Linked DNA regions of Homo sapiens. The protein of the gene in region 2 purifies or fractionates together with the protein of the main gene of each other region. This does not show direct contact. Each region holds a gene or a part of one and is shown on either strand. Other genes may lie near its edges. The genes, in order: KLHL22 and LYRM4.

Evidence for each region.
Region 1: the proteins of LYRM4 (region 2) and KLHL22 purify together in Homo sapiens (affinity purification with mass spectrometry; 2 studies listed by BioGRID and IntAct, with this or other methods). This does not show direct contact.

The regions. Positions count from the first base shown.
Region 1 is NC_000022.11:20,443,600-20,450,888, reverse strand, and holds part of KLHL22 (kelch-like protein 22), read left to right. Parts: intron 1-4,212; coding exon 4,213-4,446; intron 4,447-7,289. UniProt on the Homo sapiens protein: Substrate-specific adapter of a BCR (BTB-CUL3-RBX1) E3 ubiquitin ligase complex required for chromosome alignment and localization of PLK1 at kinetochores.
Region 2 is NC_000006.12:5,250,807-5,258,095, forward strand, and holds part of LYRM4 (LYR motif-containing protein 4), read right to left. Parts: intron 1-7,289.

The DNA.
Region 1 (7,289 bases), on a different chromosome or scaffold from region 2:
CTTCTTTGCTTCATCAACCAGATCCCTGCATTGTAAACCATAGTGGATGAAAGGCTCAGCATCTATTACATCTGTGATATACCTGAGGGTTAGCAGGGGCATCTGCATATACTGTAGCAGGCTGGGCAAGGAGTCTTTCTGCTCTTTCTTGGCATGCTTCACCCAACTGATGACAGCCTCAAAGACTGGTTCTTCAGGATCCACCTGAATTTCATCGCACTTGATTAGCTTTTCCACCTCTCCTTGCCTCAGAAGAATGAACTCTTCATGCTGTACCACTTCAGGAAAATTCTTCTGGCTAAAAACCTCAGCTGCTTGTGTCAGGTCAACACAATTGTGGGTTTCAGCAAAATCCCTAATACCCAGGCAATTAGAAGGGTCCAACTGACTTTCTAAGAACTCACAGCAGGCTTGTTTCACACCTTTCAACTGAAGCAGACAGGCTGCAGGAAGCAGTTCCTGTACATTCTCCATGTCACATGTACTGTTTCCGTGTACACAAAGTCCAATAAAATTTCCATGGTAGAGGCAGTCAAACCTTGGATGTCAACATAGGGTTTCCCCTTCTATAAAGGTCACTAGTGAACATGGCACAGAAGTAATCACTACAGGCAGCCAGCACAATCTCATGGGCAGGAAAGTCTTTCTGCTCTACTCAATGTCACATCACAGAAGGTATTGCTCTTCCCAACGGAGTTCATTGAACTGAGGATTGATTTAGCATGAGTATTTGTCATTATGTCTTTGGGGGCCATAATGCCTCCCATAAAGCAGTGCGGAGAAAGAACAAAAATAGGTCCTTGGATTCTGCAACTCTGCTTCTGATCCCACACAGCCGCGCCAGGGCCTGTCCCCAGCCTGTGGGGATGGAGTGGGGTGCGGGTCCAGCAGGTGGCTCAGGAGGAGCCGAAGCGTCGCCGCCGCCGCCCCGGCCCGGAGGCTCTGGAGCTGTCCGGGTCTGCTCCCTGCGGCCACGCGACGTGATGACCAGAAGAAAATCTTGAGGATCTAGCTAGGGCTAGGCAAGGAATTCTTAGACTTGACCCCAAAAGCATGAGCCATAAAAAGAAAAATTGATAAGCTGGACTTCATCAAAATTAAAAAATATTTGCAAACCACCTATCTGACAAAGGACTAGTATTAAATAAATACATATATAAACAACTCTTAAAACTCAATAAACGGCCAGGTGTGGTGGCTCACACCTGTAATCCCAGCACTTTGAAAGGCTGAAGTGAGCGGATCACGAGGTCAGGAGTTCGAGACCAGAGACCAGCCTGGCCAACATGGTGAAACCCCATCTCTACTAAAACTACAAAAATTAGTTGGGCGCGGTGGCACACGCCTGTAATCCCAGCTACTTGGGAGGCTGAGGCAGGAGAATTGCTTGAACCTGGGAGGCAGAGGTTGCAGTGAGCCGAGACCGTGCCTTTGCACTCCAGCCTGGGCGACAGAGTGAGACTCCATCTCAAAAACAAAAAACCTTGGCAAAATACTGCAAATAACCCCATTAAAAAGAGGGCAAAAGAAGCCGGGCACGGTGGCTCACACCTGTAATCCCAGCACTTTGGGAGGCCAAGGTGGGTGGATCACGAGGTCAGGAGATTGAGACCATCCTGGCTAACACGGTGAAACCCCATCTCTACTAAAAATACAAAAAATTAGCTGGATGTGGTGGCGGACGTCTATAGTCCCAGCTACTTGGGAGGCTGAGGCAGGAGAATGGTGTGAACCCAGGAGGCAGAGGGTGCAGTGAGCTGAGATTGTGCCACTGCACTCCAGCCTGGGCGACACGGCAAGACTCTGTCTCAAAAAAAAACAAACAAAACAAAACAAAACAAAACAAAAAACAGAAGGCAAAAGAGTTGAAGAAACATTTCACTGAAGAGGATGTATAGATGGCAAATAAGCATATAAGGAGATATGTAACATTATTAGCTATCAGGGAAATGCAAATTAAAGCCACAGTGAGAGAACTACCTCAGGATGACTAAAATAAAAAGTAGTGAAAATACGAAATACTGGTGACTGTGCAGGGAAACTATGCTCATGGATTGCTGATAGGAATGTGAAATGGTACAGCCACTCTGGAAAACAGATCTGGCAGTTACCATCCTGGGTATTTATCCCAGAGAAATGAAAACTACTCTGTATACGTTAGCCAGGCATGGTGATGCGTGCCTGTAATCCCAGCTACTCCGGAGGCTGAGGCACAAGAATTGCTTGAACCCGGGAGGCAGAGGTTGCAGTGAGCCAAGATTGTGCCACTATATTCCAGCATGGGCAATAGACCAAGACCCTGTCTCAAAAAAATAAAAAATAACTTATCTGTACATGAATGTTAATAGTAGCTTTATTGGTAATAGCCAGAAACTGGAAACAAATCAGGTGTTTTCAACAGTGAATGGTTAAACAAGCTGTGGTAGATACCCATGGAATACTACTGAGCAATAGAAAAGGAACCAACTATTGGTACATGTTGAGTACCCTTTATCTGAAATGCTGGGGACCAGAAGTGTTTTGGATTTCAGATTTTTTCAGATTTTGGAATCTTTGCATTATAGTTACTGGTTCAGCATTTCTTATCCAAAAGTCTGAAATGCATTTCCTTTGAGTGCCGTGTTTGTGCTCAAAAAGTCTCAGATTTTGGAGGTACTCAACCTGTACATGCAACAACCTGGTAGAACCTGGGTTGGGGTAGAAAGCCAATGTCAAAAGGTTGTATACTGATTTAATTCAGACAACACTCTTGAAGTTACAAAACTGTAGAAATAGAGAAGAGATTGGTGGTTTCCAGGGCTTAAGGAAGGGATTAGGGTAAGGGAGGTGAGTGGATGTCACCCTAAAGGGCAGCCCCTCGGGATCCTGGTGGTGATAGGACAGTTCTGTGGCTGTGTCCACGTCAGCATCCTGGTGACCCTGTGATATAGTGACACAGGCTCCTACCATGGGGGAAAGAAGGCACGTGAGACCTCTGTATTTTTACTTCCAACTACACGTGACTACACTTATCTCAAAATGAAAAGTTTAATTAAAAAGAAAAACCTCGGCTGGGCGTGGTGGCTCATGCCTATAATCCTAGCACTTTGGAAGGCCGAGGCAGGTGGGTCACGAGGTCAGGAGATCGAGACCATCCTGGCCAACATGGTGAAACCCTGTCTCTATTAAAAATACAAAAGTTAGCTGGGTATGGTGGCGGGCGCCTATAATCCCAGCTACTCGGGAAGCTGAGGCAGGAGAATCATTCGAACCCGGGAGGCGGAGATTGCAGTGAGCCGAGATCGTGCCACTGCACTCCGGCCTGGTGACAGAGCGAGACTCCGTCTCAAAAAAAAAAAAAAAAAGAAAAACCTCCCCAGACCCCTACTGGTGATAGGAGAAGACCCAAACCAAACCCTTGGTGTGTGTTCTTCCTCCCCACTGCTCCGTCCACCTCTCTAGACTCTTGTGTTTTTGCCACCCGCATGGCCTCAGTGTTAGTGACTTGCCCAGTAACATAGCTCTGGAGCCTCCACACCCTGAGGGGCTCCTCTACCCTCAAAACACCCAGGGCCTTGCCTTGGGGCCTTCTGTTGGCCTGCTGGGTGTGAGTGGGTGGGTTCCGGAAGTGGTAGGGCCAGGGTAAGAGGTGCCCATGATGGGGGCAGGCTGGGCCCTATGGAGATAGCCCAACAGAGGGAGGGTAAAAAGCCCACAGAAGGTTCAGGACCAGAATCAAGAACCATGTGTATTTTTCTCCCCACATCATGAGTTTAGTGTCAGATATTATTTACAAACATTTTAAAAGCAGGGTCAGCAGGCCCGGAGGATTGCATGTCCAGTGGGAGTGGGGGAGGGGTGGAGGCCACTGAGGGTGGGTCAGCGGTCCCCAGGGTTCTGTGGCTTCTTCCAGACTGGCTTGGAAAAAATGCTTTTATTTTCTTGGAGTTCCCCCATGCAGATGTTAACTTTAGGAGCAAAGGAAAGACAAAGGCTACATTTCATTTCTGAGTCTATAGATGTATCCGCTATTGGGAAGAGGTTAGAGGTCAATGACTAGGACAGTATGTCCCATGAGAATCGAGGGAGGATTCTTGTCTGTATGTGAGTGGGAAGTGGTGAAGCCTCACAGCGTTGTCAGGCAGGTGTGGGGTGGTGATTGGCCTTGACAGAGTACCCAGCCACCCTTCCTCACTGCCCTCTCACGCCATTTCTCCTGGTGGCTCCACACAGGTGTATGCCCACGCAGGCGCGACGCTGGAGGGGAAGATGTATATCACCTGCGGCCGCAGAGGGGAGGATTACCTGAAAGAGACACACTGCTACGATCCAGGCAGCAACACTTGGCACACACTGGCTGATGGGCCTGTGCGGCGCGCCTGGCACGGCATGGCAACCCTCCTCAACAAGCTGTATGTGATCGGGGGCAGCAACAACGATGCCGGATACAGGAGGGACGTGCACCAGGTGAGTGGGGCCCGGGGCAGTCCACACCCGTCATCATTCCCAAGCCTCTCAGTTGTTATTGATGGAAAATGTAATTGAATCATGTGCCTTTTAAAAATAGACTATTTTTTAGAGCAGTTTTAGGTTCACAGCAAAATTAAGTGGAAGGTACAGTTTCCATACACCCCCTTTTCCCCCCATACACATATAGCCTCCCCACTGCAGACCTCTCGCTCCAGAGGGGTGGATGTGTCACAGTTGTTGAAACTGCATTGATGCATCACCATCAACCAGAGTCCACAGTGTTCACTCTTGGCACATTCTATAGGTTTGGACAAATGTCACCATGACAGTATCACACACATACACATCTACCTTTGCTTATTACTCTTAAAAACTTTTAGGCCGGATGTGGTGGCACATGCCTGTAATCCAAGCAGTTTGGGAAGCCAAGGCGAGAGGATCACTTGAGCTCAGGAGCTTGAGACCAGCCTGGGCATCATGGCAAAACCCCATCTCTACAAAAATACAAAAATTAGCCAGGTGTGGTTGCATGCCTGTACTCTCAGCTACTTGGGAGGCTGAGGTTGGGGGATGGCTTGAGCCCAGGAGGCAGAGGTTTCAGTAAGCTGAGATCACGCCACTGCACTCCAGCCTGGGCGACAGAGCCAGGCCTTGTCTCAAAAAAAACAAAAAAAAACAACAACAAAACTTTTAGATCCAGGCTGGCAGCACATACCTGTAGTCCCAGCTACTCAGGAGGCTGAAGTGGGAGGATTGTTTCAGCCCAGAGTTGGAGGCTTCACTGAGCTATGATCACACCGCTGTTCCCCAGCCTAGGTGACAGAATGAGACCCTGTCTCTATTCAAAACAAAATAAAACAAAACAACAGAACAAAACTTTTATTATAAAGTTAATATAACCACATTGCCGGAACTTTAAAAAATAGAGATGGGTGGCCGGGCGCGGTGGCTCACGCCTGTAATCCCAGCACTTTGGGAGGTTGAGGCAGGTGGATCACGAGGTCAGGAGTTCAAGACCAGCTTGGCCAAGATGGTGAAACTCCATCTCTACTAAAAATACAAAAATTAGCCAGGTGCGGTGATGGGCGCCTGTAATCCCAGTTACTTGGGAAGACTGAGGCAGGAGAATCGCTGGAACCCGGGAGGCAGAGGTTGCAGTGAGCTGAGATCACACGACTGCACTCCAGCCTGGGCAACAGAGCAAGACTCCATCTCAAAAAAAAAAAAAAAATAGAGAAGGGTGAGGAAAAGCATTCATAATCAGGCCCCTGCAGTACTGTTTTTCAGTATGACCATTTTCAGCATTGACCGTGTATGTTTTCTGCCTGATTGTAGTCAAAGAGCATCCCATTCTGAGCTGGGCACAGTGGCTCACACCCGTAATCCCTGCATTTTGGGAAGCCAAGGCAGGTGGATGGCTTGAGTCCAGGAACTGATACCAGCCTGGGCAACATGGTGAAACTCCATCTCTACTAAAAATACAAAAAAAAATTAGCCAGGCATGGTGGCTTGCACCTGTGGTCCCAGCTACTTGGGAGGCTGAGGGAGAATCAACTGAGCCCAGGAGGTTGAGGCTGCAGTGAACCGTGATGGTGCCACTGCACTCCAGCCTGGGCAACAGAGCGAGACCTTGTCTCAAACAAACAAACAAACAAACAAAAAAGAGCATCCCATATCCCATTCTGCTTCTCTCAGTGACTTTTGTCCTGGGCATTTTCCAGATTAACACTCAATCTTCATCATCCCCTCTTGTGTCTAAGTTTTAACTATTCCAAATAACATGACAAGTAATAGTTGCTTTGTTGAGCTTTTCAGGTATTTTGGATTATTTCCTTAGGTTCATGCAACAGTTCTCAAAGTGTGATTCTCAGACTAACAGAGTCTGCATCACCTGGGAACGCTGTGTTACGAGGCACCTCAGACCCACTGATTCGGAAGCCCTGAGGGTGGGTCTTGGCGATCTGGCTTTTAACAGGTCCTCTGCTTGTGAGATCCTCTGGGCCAGCACATTAGTTTTCTATTGCTTCAGTAACCTATCACCACAAACATAGCAACTTAAGATAAATTTATTCTGCATTCATAAGTCCTCTGACATGGGCCTTGCCAGGCTAAAACCAGGGTGCGGTCAGGGCATCTTTCCTTTGTGGAGACCCTAGTGGGGATCTGCCTCCCTGCTCACTCTGGTTAGAAGAATTCAGTCCCTGGCAGTTGCAGTCCCATTTCCTTGCTAGCTGTCAGTTGAGGGCCTTCTTGGCTTCTAGAGGTCCCCACTTTTCCTGGCTTGGGGACACTTCGTCTTCAAAGCCAGCAATGGCAGGTTGAGTCCTCCTCACTTCTCAGCTCTCTTGTCTGGCTTTACCCTTCCTTTTTTTCTTTTTTTTTTTTTTATGAGATGGAGTCTTGCTTTGTCACCCAGGCTGGGGGGCACTGGTGCAGTCTCAGCTCACTGCAACCTCTGCCTCCTGGGTTTAAGCGATTCTCCTGCTTCAGCCTCCGGAGTAGCTAGGAGGACTACAGGTGTTCGCCACCACACCTAGCTAATTTTTCTATTTTTAGTAGAGACGGGGTTTTGCCATGTCGGCCAGGCTGGTCTCAAACTCCTGACCTCAGGTGATCCACGCACCTCAGCCTCCCAAAGTGCTAGGATTACAGGCGTGAGCCACCACCCCCGGCCTCCCCTTCCACTTTTTTTGTTTGTTTGTTTGAGACAGAGTCTCGCTCTGTCGCCAGGCTGGAGTGCAGTGGTGCTCTTGGCTCACTGCACCCTTTGCCTCCTGGGTTCAAGTGATTCTCCTGCCTCAGCCTCCCGAGTAGCTGGGGTTACAGGCATGTGCCACCAT
Region 2 (7,289 bases):
CTTACATATGGTATAATAAAAGAGTGAAAGCAATTTTTACAGACATGTATGATGTGTTCAACATTTCATAGAGAGCAAAACTCTTATTTGGCTGCTTAAAATAGAATACAATGTTATTTAAAAAATATTTCTGTAATACGATATATGACAGCCAAAACATCATTATGCAAGGTGTCTCCTCAGCCCCAGTACATTCTGCAAATCTCCACTGTTCGGGCACTATTTCAATTTGCATGCTTCCTCTGTAAGTTTCTTGAGCCGTCCTTATATGTACATTGCATATGCGCAACCATACTACAATCTTGTGACAGCAGGGCCATCTTGTGTTTGATTCCACCTATTACTAGGTTCTAGTGTGGTAATATATACATACACACACACACACTGTGAGTTTTCAAGAAATATTAGGAAGAAATGGATTTGTTGATTTGTCTCCAGAAGAATATTTGGCATGAAGGCTTTCACTGTAGCTGCCCTGTTTTACAAAGTGAAAGGTGCTTGTTAATACTATTCATATTAGGGTGGTATTTGAATTAGTCTGTTCTCACATTGACTGGCTAATTTATGAAGAAAAGAGGTTTAATTGGCTCACAGTTCTGCAGGCTGTACAGGAATTGTGATGCTGGCATCTGCTCAGCTTTTGGGGAGGCCTCAGGAAGCTTACAATCATGGCAGAAGGTGAAGGGGGAGCAGACACATCACAGGCCAGAGCAGGAGCAAGCAAGCGAGGAAGGAGATGCCACATACTTTAAAACAACCGGATCTCATGAGAACTCACTCATTATTGTGAGGACAGTACCAAGGGGAATGGTGCTAAACTATTCATGAGAAACCTGCCCCCATGATCCAATTACTTCCCACCAGGCCCCACCTCCAACACGGGGGATTGCATTTCAGCATGAGATCTGGGTGGAGACAACATCCAAACTGTATCATTGCATGCTAGCCTTCTTGATCAATCAGTGACACATAGGGTGGAAGAGGCAGTCACTGTTAAAAGATCCGCAACAAGGAAAACATGTGAAAGAAATCCTTTGATGAGTGAGAGGGCTGCCTGGTTCCCACTCCAGGAGCTCATGGTTCTAATTCCTCAGCTTGCCAATAAATCTGGATTGCGACTGGTAATATATTAAAGAGTTCCAATGGCTCAAAAAGAAAACAGATTCCTAAACACGAATCATTATTTGGTTCCTTCATTAAGACAGCAATCACAGATATCAGTGTTTCATTCAGTTGTGTAGTACATAGTAAGCGAGACCTGACGTTGATCAGCACTTAGGTTGATCAGGACTTAGGAATTTTACCACTCATGAAACTAGGGAGCCTGTTTAACCATTTCACCTATAAGGAGGAACTGTGAAAATAAACTTCTCCAGGTTGATGTTTCTACAGATTTTGCAGGCTTATTCACAGGATGCATGGGTGCAGGAATTTTCTTCTGAAAAGAATGGGGTTGTGGAAGCGGCAGCCCACGGGGAGCGAGGCGGCCTTCTAATCCCATTCTGCCCTTGACCAACTGTGAGACCAATCAAGTTGCTTCTCCTCTCTATGCCTCACTCTGCCTTGAAACCTATTTCGTTACTTACTGGGGATTTTACCTAGCATTTAACATCATGACATTTAGCTCAGTCCAACACTTCAGCCACAATTACCCACGTCTGGTTCTGACACACGCCTTGCATTTTACTTTTCACATGCCTTACTGTCTTTGCCTGGAATGCTCTTCCATCGCATGTCCACCTCTGTGGCTGACACAGACTGTTGCCTAATCAATAGTTCTTCCCACCGTTTTCTCTCTGCTGTCTTTTCACTAGAGATGCTAGAATAGCTGTATCCTAATTTTCCAGCCTGTTGTTTACCTAGTGATATAAACGTAATGAAGTTTTGGTCAATGAGCAAAAGCAGAGTCCTCCTGGAAAGCTTTACCCTTTCCTGGCTGTGACTGCCCTTCTTCTTCCTGACTAAATAAGGATGTATTTGGAGCTTCAAAAGCTGTTTGCAACCATCAGGCATAAGCATGAGAGGAACACCGAGACTCACACATACCTTGACATTTTCTAGCTGCTAAATAAGCTCTGGCAGCTACATACCTCTAGACCTTTCCTATGTGAGAAGAATAAGCCCCCAATTAAGCCCTGTGTAAGGGCTTCCTATGACTTCTGGTCAAAAGCATTCCTAATTTTAAGGTGGCACTTAGGAGACCAGCTCCTTTCTATGGCCTTTCCTTTGTACTTCATTGATAAACTTCTTTAGGAGCTTGTAATGTTTTACCCTTAATAGGAGGCTCATTTTGATCTGAAGCTCTTTGCACAATGCTTAGTGTATAACACATTAATAAAAACTCAAATATCTGATGAAGAATTAGGGAGTTCTGACACTACACTTGGTATGCATTTGGGCATCACTTTAGCCTTTTCTCAAGTTTTACAATAACATATTTCTTAAGCTATAAGAGGGATACATTGAATATAATTTTCTCTTGCATTTCAACAATGAATATTTATTATGTTGGTGCAAAAGGAATGCAGTTTTTGCATTGCTGGAATTTGCTGTTTGATACTGGAATAAATTCTTAAATAAATGTGGTTATGTTATACATCATTTTAATGGGCAATTCTCAGTTTTTTTTTTTGCTAATGACTTGCTGTTTATGTTTATTTTACACTATGGAAATAATGTTAGACAAAAAGTAAATTTCAGCAATTTTCTTATTTGAGCTCAAAATTGGTCAAAAAGCTGCAGCGACAACTTGCGACAACTCATTTGGCCTAGGAACTGCTAACAAAGGTACAGTGCTGTGGTGGTTCAAGAAGTTTTGCAAAGGAGACGAGAGCCTTGAAGATGAGGAGCCTAGTCGCCGGCCATTGGAAGTTGTCACCGACCAATTGAGAGCAATCATGGAAACTGATCCTCTTACAATACTCGAGAAGTTGCCAAAGAACTCAATGTTGACCATTCGATGGTCGTTCGATCTGAAGCAAAATGCAAATGTGAAAAACCTCAATAAGTGGGTGCCTCATGCTGAGCAAAAAAAAAAAAAAACCATCGTTTTGAAGTGTTGTCTTCTCTTATTCCATGCAACAATGAACCATTTCTCGATCAGATTGTGATGTGTGATGAAAAGTGGATTTTATGTGACAACTGGTGATGACCAGCTCAGTGGCTGGACCAAGAAGCTCCAAAGCACTTCCCAAAGCCAAACTTGCATCAAAAAAAGGTCATGCTCACTGTTTGGTTGTCTGCTCCACTAGAGCTTCTTGAATCCCGGCAAAACTGTTTCATCTGAGAAGTATGCTCAGCAAATCCATGAGATGCACTGAAAACGGCAATGCCTGCAGCCAGCACTGGTCAACAGAAACGGCCCAACTGTCTCCATAATGACCCTTGACTGCATGTCACAAAACCAACGCTTCACAAGTTGAACGAATTGGCCTCATCCGCCATATTCATCTGACTTCTCGCTAACCAACTTCCACTTCTTGAAGCATCTCGACAACTTTTTGTAGGGAAAACGCTTCCTTGACTAGCAGGATGAAGAAAATGCTTTCCAAGAGTTTGTAGAATCCCGAAGCACGGATTTTTACGCCACAGGAATAAACTTATTTCTTGTTGGCAAAAACATGTTGATTGTAATAGTTCCTATTTTGATTAATAAAGATATATTTGATCCTAGTTATAATAATTTAAAATTCATGGCCCAAAACCGCAATTACTTTTGCACCAACTTGCTACCTAGGTACTATGCTAAGCACTAGGAATAGAGATAAGACAGAATTTCTGGTAACTGTGTATGTGTGATATGTGCCCTAACAAAGGTAAGAACAGGTGCTTCCTCAACATCTGCTTATCTCCCGCTTAACCCAGAAACTGGCTGTCAGGCTTGGCACAAATAAACTCAACTTTCCACCCTCTCATACTCCAACTTGCCCTCTTCTCCTTCATTCCACTCATGTAAAATGAAATACCGTTCATTCTGTCCAAGACCAACCCCACCAGCTGTGCTCTCAGGTACCACTTTTCACCTCTCGTGGGGTCCTGCTCTATCGGTTATCTACTCTCATGTTTTATTAACCAAAATTCCGGTGGGAGGTGGAGGGGGTATCTCTACTCACGGCAGCAATTTACGCACTTCTGATTCATGTCTCAACCCCCACAATCTGGGTTCTGCCATAACCACTTGACTAACAATGCTGCTCTGGTAATGGTACCAGAGGCTCTACATTGCCCTCTTTATGAACTGGATATTGCTTAGACAAGCCACCCTGCTGACCACAGCTACCTTCCCCAAACATATGACTATCTTGACTTCTGCAACACTACTCTTTACTTGATCTCCTCCCATTTCTTCAACCCTACAGTAGTTAGCCAAGGGACCATGGCGGGGGTCTCTGAGACCTTTCAGGGGATCCACCAGGAAAACTATTTTCATAGTTATCAGGAAGACATCTGCATTCTCTCATGAGTATACAGGGGAAATTACTAGACACTAAGTGATATGTGATATAGCAACAAATTGTAGATAGCAACAAATATAAGCACCCAGTTGTCTTCTATTAAGCCAAACATGAAAGAGACTTGCACTAGTGTCAAACTATCAATCTGCTGATTTAGGGGGAGGAAAAATGGTTATTCTTCATAAAAGTGTTATTTAACATAATGGATTTAGTCACTTTAAAATAGGTGTTTTTAAAAGCTTTTTTTTTCTAATATGATAAATGCGTCCCACATAAATGAAAGCTTTTTGGGGTCCTCAGTAATATTTAAGAACGTAAAAGGCCTAAGACCAGTTAAGTTGAAGAACCACATTCTTAAACTTTGTCTTCTTGGCTCTTCTTCAGCCAACTACTTCAATTTTGATGTTCCCTAGAATAGCATCCGTAGCCACGAATTTTCTCACCTTAAACTAGGATTTCTCAATCTTGGCATGACCAAACTTTTGGGCCAGCTAATTCTTTGTTAATGGGGGTTGTCCCCTGTGCATCCCTGGCCTCAGATGCCTAGCACCCCCTTTCCAAGTTGTGGCAACCAAAAACGTCTTCAGATATTGTCAAATAAAATCACCCCAGGATGAGAACTACTAACCTAAATAGTATTCCTAGATAATTCATCTAATATCTAGGTTTTAATTTGACTTATGATGATAATTCCACTTATCAAGTACCTATTCTGCACCAGGGACTATCCTAAGTACTTGATGTGTATTAACTCACCACAGTGGTGCCGACTACAGCCCCCATTAACAAAGAATTAGCTGGCCCAAAAGGTTGGTCATGCCAAGATTGAGAAATCCTAGTTTAAGGTGAGAAAATTAGTGGCTACGGATGCTATTCTAGGGAACATCAGAATTGAAGGAGTTGGCTGAAGAAGAGCCAAGAAGACAAAATTTAAGAATGTGGTTCTTGGCCAGGCGCGGTGGCTCATGCCTGTAATCCCAGCACTTTGGGAGGCCGAGGTGGGCGGATCACCTTAGGTCAGGAGTTCAAGATCAGCCTGGCCAATATGGTGAAACCCCGCCTCTACTAAAAATACAGAAATTAGCCAGGCGTAGTGGCAGGCACCTGTAATCCCAGCTACTCGGGAGGCTGAGGCAGAAGAATTGCTTGAACCTGGGAGGTGGAGGTTGCAGTGAGCCAAGATCGCACCATTGCCCTCCAGCCTGGGCAACAAGGGCAAGATTTCAACTGGAAAAAAAAAAAAAAAAAAAAAAAAAAAAAAAAAAAAAAAGAATGTGGTTCTTAAACTTATTGGTCTCAGGACCCTTTTACACTGTGTGAGATGGATCAATTATGACTCTCATTTTATAAAGAAACTGCAGAACAGAGAGTGATGTGACTTGCGTGGGGTCACACAGAGTTGGTGGTGCTGACTACTGCAGTGCTCATCACTCCTCTGAGCTTCAGAGCCCTGTGATTAACTACCTCTGCTGGGCATCCCAGGGGAAATTTACACCCAAGATACCCTAAATATGAACTAAAAAACCCTCTCTCCACAAGACCAGCTAGTTCTGTATTACCTGAGTCAGTTAATGGTGCAAGTTTAAATTCACCCTCTCTGTGCTTTAGCTTAACCAGAAACCTGGATGCCATTCTAGACTCTGCTTGGATTCTCTTCTTCCTTAGTCCTCAATCCAATCATTCCAGTTCCAACAATTTTCCCTTCTAATGATTTATCAAATACAACATTCTTCTCTATCTTCCACTATTCCTGTCCTTACTAGCGTCCTAATCTCTACTCTGCACTGTTGTAATCAACTCCCATTTGATGTCCTTGGCCCCTCAAAATCATCTTCTACACTGCTGCCAGAGTGATCTATCAGAAAATGCAAATCTGGTCATGTCAGGTTAGTGGCTGCCTGTGAGCTAAGGGTAAAGTCCAGGGTCCTCAGCACGGCCCCCAGGCCCTCAAATCAGTGGCCCTCTCCAACCTCAGTGCCTTCCTGTCACCGCCCCCCCAACCCCATCATACTTACCTCCCTGGCAGTGCTGTGCTGTTTGCCTGCCTGACCACACCAAGCTGCTTCATGCCTTTGATCCAACATCACCCCTTGGGAGGCCTTCTAGATTCCACACCTTGTACATCCTTCTGTCACAGCACTTAACCCAGTCTGTGACAACTATCTCTGTACCTGTGTCCCACATAGGCCTGTAAAGCCATTGATAACAGGTGCCTAGCTTAGTTCAAAAATCTCATCTTTCTCTCTCCAGGGCTTGGTATAGCAGGGGTCCCCAACCCATCAGTACTGGTCCGTGGCCTGTTAGGAACCGGGCCACACAGCAGTTGAGCGGTGGGTGAGTGCGCATTATGGCCTGAGCTCCATCTCCTGTCAGATCAGCGGCGGCATTAGATTCTCATAGGTGCACCTATTGTGAACTGTGCATGTGAGTGATCTAGGTTGCATGCTCCTTATGAGAATCTAATGCCTGATGATCTGAGGTGGAAGAGTTTCATCCCGAAACCATCCCCTCCCTTGACCCGGTCCATGGAAAAACTGTCTTCCATGAAATTGGTTCCTGGTGCCAAGAAGGTTGGGGATAGCTGTGATATAGCACTGGGCAAAGCATGCTTCAGAGATGTTTTGTAGAAGCACTGAGGTAAAAGAATGACACACAGCAATGAGACCTGTTTGGCTGGTGGGAGGGATGGGAGTGGAAGCTGTGGGATGAAGAGAGTTGGGAAAACTTTTGTTCAGAGAAGGTGACAATTGAGCTCAATCTTGAAGGAAGAGGGGGCACTCTAGACAGGAGTGATAAAGGGCCTGCTGGATAGAACAGTACTTGTAAAGGCCTGGA